2 separate regions of the Homo sapiens genome follow, and region 1 is linked to region 2. Evidence: fine-mapped expression QTL. A gene starts in region 2. The other region holds a variant in brackets. All regions are shown on one strand. Distances are from middle to middle.

Region 1 (2,910 bases), 64 kb before region 2:
TAGGAGACAGAGCATGGACATGCAGCCCCATGACTTAGAACCAGCAGTGCCTCCCATCAAAATCAGTGGAAAAGGGCTGGGCGCAGTGGCTCACACCTGTAATCTTAGGACTTTGGGAGGCTCAGGCAGGATCACTTGAGGCCAGGATTTCAAGACGAGCCTGGGCAACATAGGGAGACCCCCATGTCTACATACAATTTTTTAAAAATTCGCTGGGTATGGTGGCGTGTGACTGCGGTCCCAGCTACTCAGGAGGCTGAGGAAGGAGGATCACTTGAGCCCGGGAGGTGGAGGCTACAGTGAACCATGTGAGCCACTGTGCTCCAGCCTCCATGACAGAACAAGATGTTGTCTCAAAAGAAAAAAAAATCACTGGAGAAACCACTTTGGTCCTCAGAAGCTTTGTTACACCCTTACCTCAAAGCCCATTCTTCATGACCTCAACCTTCAAGTGCAGTATCAACTCGCTTACAGTCCTCTCCTGACTTTCTTCAAGACAGAACTAACTAGATACAAGTTCTTCCTCCTCTTTTTCCTATTTACTTCTTTTGTAAGGTAGACTTTTTTAAAGGAGGGGGTGGGAGGGGGACTAACAAAGCGGAAGGGACTTCTCTCCAGGGTAATAAAAGTGGGGCATCCAGAGTTCAACCTTTCAAAATCTTTAACTCTATCTGGTCATTTTAACAACCGTATTCTCAATACAGTTGTTGAGGGGAGTTGTCCCCTCATTCTTGCATCAAAAAAATAAAATGAAACATTTCTTAGTTCTACCAGGTCCACCACTCCTGTGCTCTGTTTCCCGACAGGGTGGTGCCAGTCACTCATCTTTTCCCAAATGTATTAGTGACATATTTTACTTTGACTTCCTCACTGCCATAACTTTTTCTACTTTTCTAAATAAGCAGTTTCTCTGAATATCCCTTCAAACCCAATAATGATTACTATTCAAACATGAACAGTCTAAAAGATAAAATGTTAAAAATTAAACTTATTTTATTAAGATAGTTGGGTATATGTGATTTTTTGTTTTAAAATTCTATTTTGTTTTAATGTTATTACTGTACAAAAATACAATTTTTAGATAAATAATAATGTCTCAGGTGGAAGTTTAAAGACCTTCTCTGCCAACTGCCCAGGCTTGTGAGGAACAGTGAGAAAATATATGTGTACATGCTCTGAAAATGGCAAGCCACCTCTCAAGTGAAACAGATTCCTATAAAAATCTCTACATTTGTTAGAACACTTAGCATTGTACCTTGGGGGAATTGAGACGCTAAATTATTGTTTATGGAATAAACTGTTTAATTAAGAGCTGAACTTATGTAACCAAAAAAGTCCTATAGTTTCATATATCATTTTATGCAGTTATTATAAAATGAAACATAATTTCTGAGAAAGCAAAAGTAATAGATTTTTCCATTGTCATTGAAATGAGTAAGCCCCAATACCAAGCAGGTAAAGAAAAAAAAAAAACCTTGTTTATTAATTTTCCAGGGGAAGTGGTTTTATTTTATAATGTTTAGGGGAAGGCTTATCATGAGGTTACAATTTAGCCTAACTTTTTTTCATAAATTTAATTTTTTAGAGCAGTTTTAGGTTCATAGCAAAGTTATGTGAAAGGTACAAAGATTTCCTATATAACCCTTGCCCCCACACAGGCACTGCTTCCCCAGTGTCCACATCCAACCACAGTGGTACATTTGTTAACCATTTGTTACAATTCATGAACCCACATTGACACAGC[A/C]TTATCACCGGAAGTTCACAGTTCACATTAGTGTTCACTCTTGATGTACCCTCTATGGGTTTTGACAAATGAATAATGCCATGCAGCCACCATTATAGCATCCTACAGAGTAGTTTCACTGCCCTGAAATCCCCTATGCTCTATTCATCCCTCCCAGCCCACTAGCCCCTGGCAGCTTCTGCCTCTTAGCCTAATTTTTATAACAGTAACATCAGTTCTTCAGATGTTTTAAAATGCCTTTTTATACTTTCTCTATTGGTTACATAGAGGTGTATTGCTGCCTGTCACCCACTACCATGTCCCCTACCTATTTGCTTCAAACATTATCTGTTGTACAACACCGTCATCTGAAATGAAAACCTACAACATTACTGCAGGAAAATTCATTAACAGTTACAATTTAAACACCAGTGATGTAACCATTCACTGGAAAAATATGAATTGACGACCTACTATGGGCCAAGCTTTAGGGATCCAGCAATGAACAAGCAGATAGTGTCCATGCTCTTGGGTTACTTACATTCCACCTATAATATCTAACACATCAGTGGTCTGGATGCTGAGTGAGCGGGTACATATTTCTGGCTCTTGATCTTGTTTCTTATGCTTACCTTTTGAGAAAACAGCAAGATATGGAGATAAATATATTATCCAAAAACTTTACCTCAGAATTAGTGTCCTGAAGAGATTAGAGCTAAAGTCTAATGTGATTTTGTCTCTCTTAAATTATTTATCTACAAGTCCTAAGTAGAAATTTTGAAGTTAGGTGACAGCAAAAGCAGAAAACATTTTTTCTTCTTGCAGTCACCACGGCAGTGGTAGTAAAAGTAACAATTAGCATATGTGGGGTATAGGCTAAGTGCTTCATATATATATGTATATATACATATACACAAATATATGTATACACACACATACACACACACAATCTCATCAGTCCTATAAAAATATGTACTATTGCCCAAACTTTACCCCAAAAATTGCCTTGCTGAAAGCATATTTATTTAGCATCTCATTGGCCAAAATGTGACAAATTCTGTAAGAGATACCAAAAAATTATGAGATGCTACTATTTTCAAATGTAACAATGATTAAGATATCAGCAGTAGATACACATGCACAAATTAGAAGCACATTTACTAGTTCCTCTCTCACTCCTTCATTCC
Region 2 (2,910 bases):
GGACGGCAGCCAAGAGACCCCAAATTGTCTCAACCTCCAGGACACGGCAAGTTGCAAGTTTCCGAGTTGGGGAGGCAAAGCGGGAAAACATGTTTGGCGATTTCCTCCTGCCACTCACCGACCGGAGAAATGGGGAGGCGGACTCCAGGTCTTTCGTGGACTGCCAAGAGCCCTATAGGGCGTCCAGCTATAAAAAGAGAAGAATCCCATGAAGGACAACAAGCAAACTCATATGTTATCCCTTTAGCCGGATTGTGTGCTGATGATTGTTTCCCTATTTACACTTCGAATCACCCCTGTGGTCTTTTGTGAGTCCCCAAGGCAGCCTCAGCCTTCGCAAACCGTCCAGTGGGGCACGAATCTCGGAGGGGTGCGGGCTGCAGGCGGCAGAGGGAAGCCAAAGAGGGGCGGCTTTTCCAGGCCGTCCACCCCCAGGCGAGCTGGTCCTCACCCTTCGATCGGCTCGAGTCCCTCGGACAGTTGCCCACTCACAGCGTGCAAAGGGGTCGCACTCCCTGTGGGTTCTCCGCCCTCAGAAGCGGCGCTGCGCAGGAAAGTCACCTCCACTACGGGCCGGGAGTAGGGAGGGGAGCACAGTGACAGGGTTGGGGAACAGCCGAGGAGGAGTGGGGGTCGCGGAGATAGGGGTGGGGACGGCCGCGGAGAGGGCGGTGGGAGTGGGGTGGGGCCGGGGAGGGCCGGGGGCGGGGCTGCGGGGCGGGGTGCGCCACAGCGCCCCCTAGCTGCGCGCTCCCCACGGTGCCCTGAGGCCGCTGGTGGCTCTGGCTCGGCAGCCCCTTTGTGTGCGACGCGCTGGTCCCGAGGAGCGCGGCACGGGCACAGCGGAGGCCTCCCAGGGTCCCACCGCTTCTGTCCCAGCCAGGCCGTGCTCTCCTCCTTCTCCTTCTCCGCTCCTCCTTTCTCCGGTCCCCGGCCTCTGGTTCCGAACAGCAGCCATTGGGCCTTGACGAGCCCGCGTCCGGCCGCGCTCCCTACCCCGCCCGGCCCGGGACGCTCGCCCCCCTCCCGCCCTGTCCCTTCTGGATCCCCGCCCCACCCCCCCACCCCCCACATCCCGGGCCTCCAAGGTGGAGAAAATAAACTACAAGCAGAACAACTCAGAATCTCCAATAAAACGCCCAGTACCTAGAGCCCGAGCGCGTGTGCCGGGCTGCGAGGGGCGCGGGAGGCGGGGATGGGGGGGCGGGCGGGGGGGACAATGAGCGCATGAAGTTACCTGCCCGGCGGCGGCGGCAGCGGCGGCGGCGGGACCAAGAGGCGGCGGTGGAGCAGGCTGCGCGCTCGGCGCCGACGGGTGCGCGCCGCGGCTTGGGGGAGAGTTGAGCGCTTTTCCCCCCTCTTTTTTTTTTTTTTCCTCTTCTTCTTAAACAAACCACAAACGGATGTGAGGGAAGGAAGGTGTTTCTTTTACTCCTGAGCCCAGACACCTCACTCTGTTCCGTCTAAGCTTGTTTTGCTGAACACTTTTTTTTAAAAAAGGAAAAAGAAAAGGAGTTGCTTGATGTGAGAGTGAAATGGACGTAAGATTTTATCCACCTCCAGCCCAGCCCGCCGCTGCGCCCGACGCTCCCTGTCTGGGACCTTCTCCCTGCCTGGACCCCTACTATTGCAACAAGGTGAACGCTCTGCTTTTGTTTCCACCGTGTTCTTGCTGCTTGATCCTGGGAGGGGAGCGGCGGTGGCCGGGCCGCGGCGGGGCCGGCTTGGCGGAGGCCGGTCCCGGGCGCGCTCGGCTCGCAGCCCGCTGCAGCCTGCGTGCGCTTGGGTAGTAAATATTGTGGAGTAGCTCCGGGGGCTTGCCAAACACCGCGATTGTGCGGAAAGTGACACGATTTGCTCGGATTCTTTCCTTCCTGCTGTTCGCGGCTAAGGATCCCTGCCTAGGTTTGCCGGGGGGCGTTTAAAAAAATAATAAGAGAAAACCGTGGAATACTTTGGGGGTGTGTCTGGGGTCCAGGAACGGAGGCAGAGTAAGAGAATTCAGTTTATTTCCCAGTTCCCCCTTCTCTCTCCCTCCCTCCCCGGGCAGTGGGGGCTCGTGGCACCACTTCCCTTCTCCGGATTAGTTGCCAGGGGAGCAGCCGGGAGTCGGGGTGCAGGGACCTGGGAGGCGCCCCTGCCCCCCACAGGGAAAACTGCCCCACAACTCTTTTGTTTTCTCAAACCGGTTCCGGCAGCCGAGCCCGGGTTCGGACACAGGTCCGCGGGCCAGAGCACAGCGGGGTAGCTGGGTCAAGGTTTGGGGAACAGTTCCTGTTTAAGGGGTGCGCGCGGAAATTGCAAGTTTGTTGGGAGCCGGGCGAGCACGTCGCGTTCAAGTCCAAAGCTCCCGCACTCGCGGAGCAGGGTCCGCGGCTGAGCTGTACCCACGGCCCGCTGACCTCGGGTGCCAGGGCCGCGGGGGCCCGGGGAGAGGCGGATCATGCCGGTGACCCGGAGGTGGGGCGCTGGCCTGGGCTGCTGCGGAGTTCGGCTGGGTCCACCTATAGGACAGTCAGGGGGTACGAGGGAGGGGGTTACTCTCCCGGCTTCTCGAACTCTCTCATCCCAGAGAGGGAGGACACGCAGGGACCGGTCCCCCAGAGTGGTCGCAGGGGCACGACTGCCCACGCCTAGGGCTAGTTGGACGTGTCTAAGCAGTCCCGTTGGATGAACGTTGGCAGAGAGAATTGAGTTCTCTAAAACGCTGGGCGGGCCTTTTAGACGCCCAACTCTCGCTTGGTGATAAATCTGCCTGATACTCACAGCCCCTGCAGGCACATCCATGGCGACCCTCGGTGCATTCCACGGGAAAAATCGTTGGGACTCCCAACATTTGCCTGGTGGCGAGTCATCACCAAACGGCTTTTTTACCTGATACAGAGATATTTAGTGCGCTGCCTTCTCAGC

What was found.
Region 1: its variant is fine-mapped to the expression of TOX in whole blood (TOPMed, PIP above 0.99).

Annotation. Positions count from the first base shown.
Region 1 is chr8:59,181,757-59,184,666 of GRCh38, reverse strand. No RefSeq gene overlaps it. Among named protein-coding and RNA genes, the nearest start is that of TOX-DT, 64 kb to the right of the region's middle. The variant A/C (reference allele first, on the strand shown) is at 1,745.
Region 2 is chr8:59,117,613-59,120,522 of GRCh38, reverse strand. It overlaps TOX (thymocyte selection associated high mobility group box), which reads left to right and starts at 1,376. Exons shown (of 9, transcript NM_014729.3): 1 at 1,376-1,637. The coding sequence starts at 1,536. TOX-DT (TOX divergent transcript) reads right to left here and starts at 1,313. Exons shown (of 3, transcript NR_149031.1): 1 at 1,238-1,313; 2 at 452-566; 3 at 1-187. RefSeq lists a silencer at 632-851.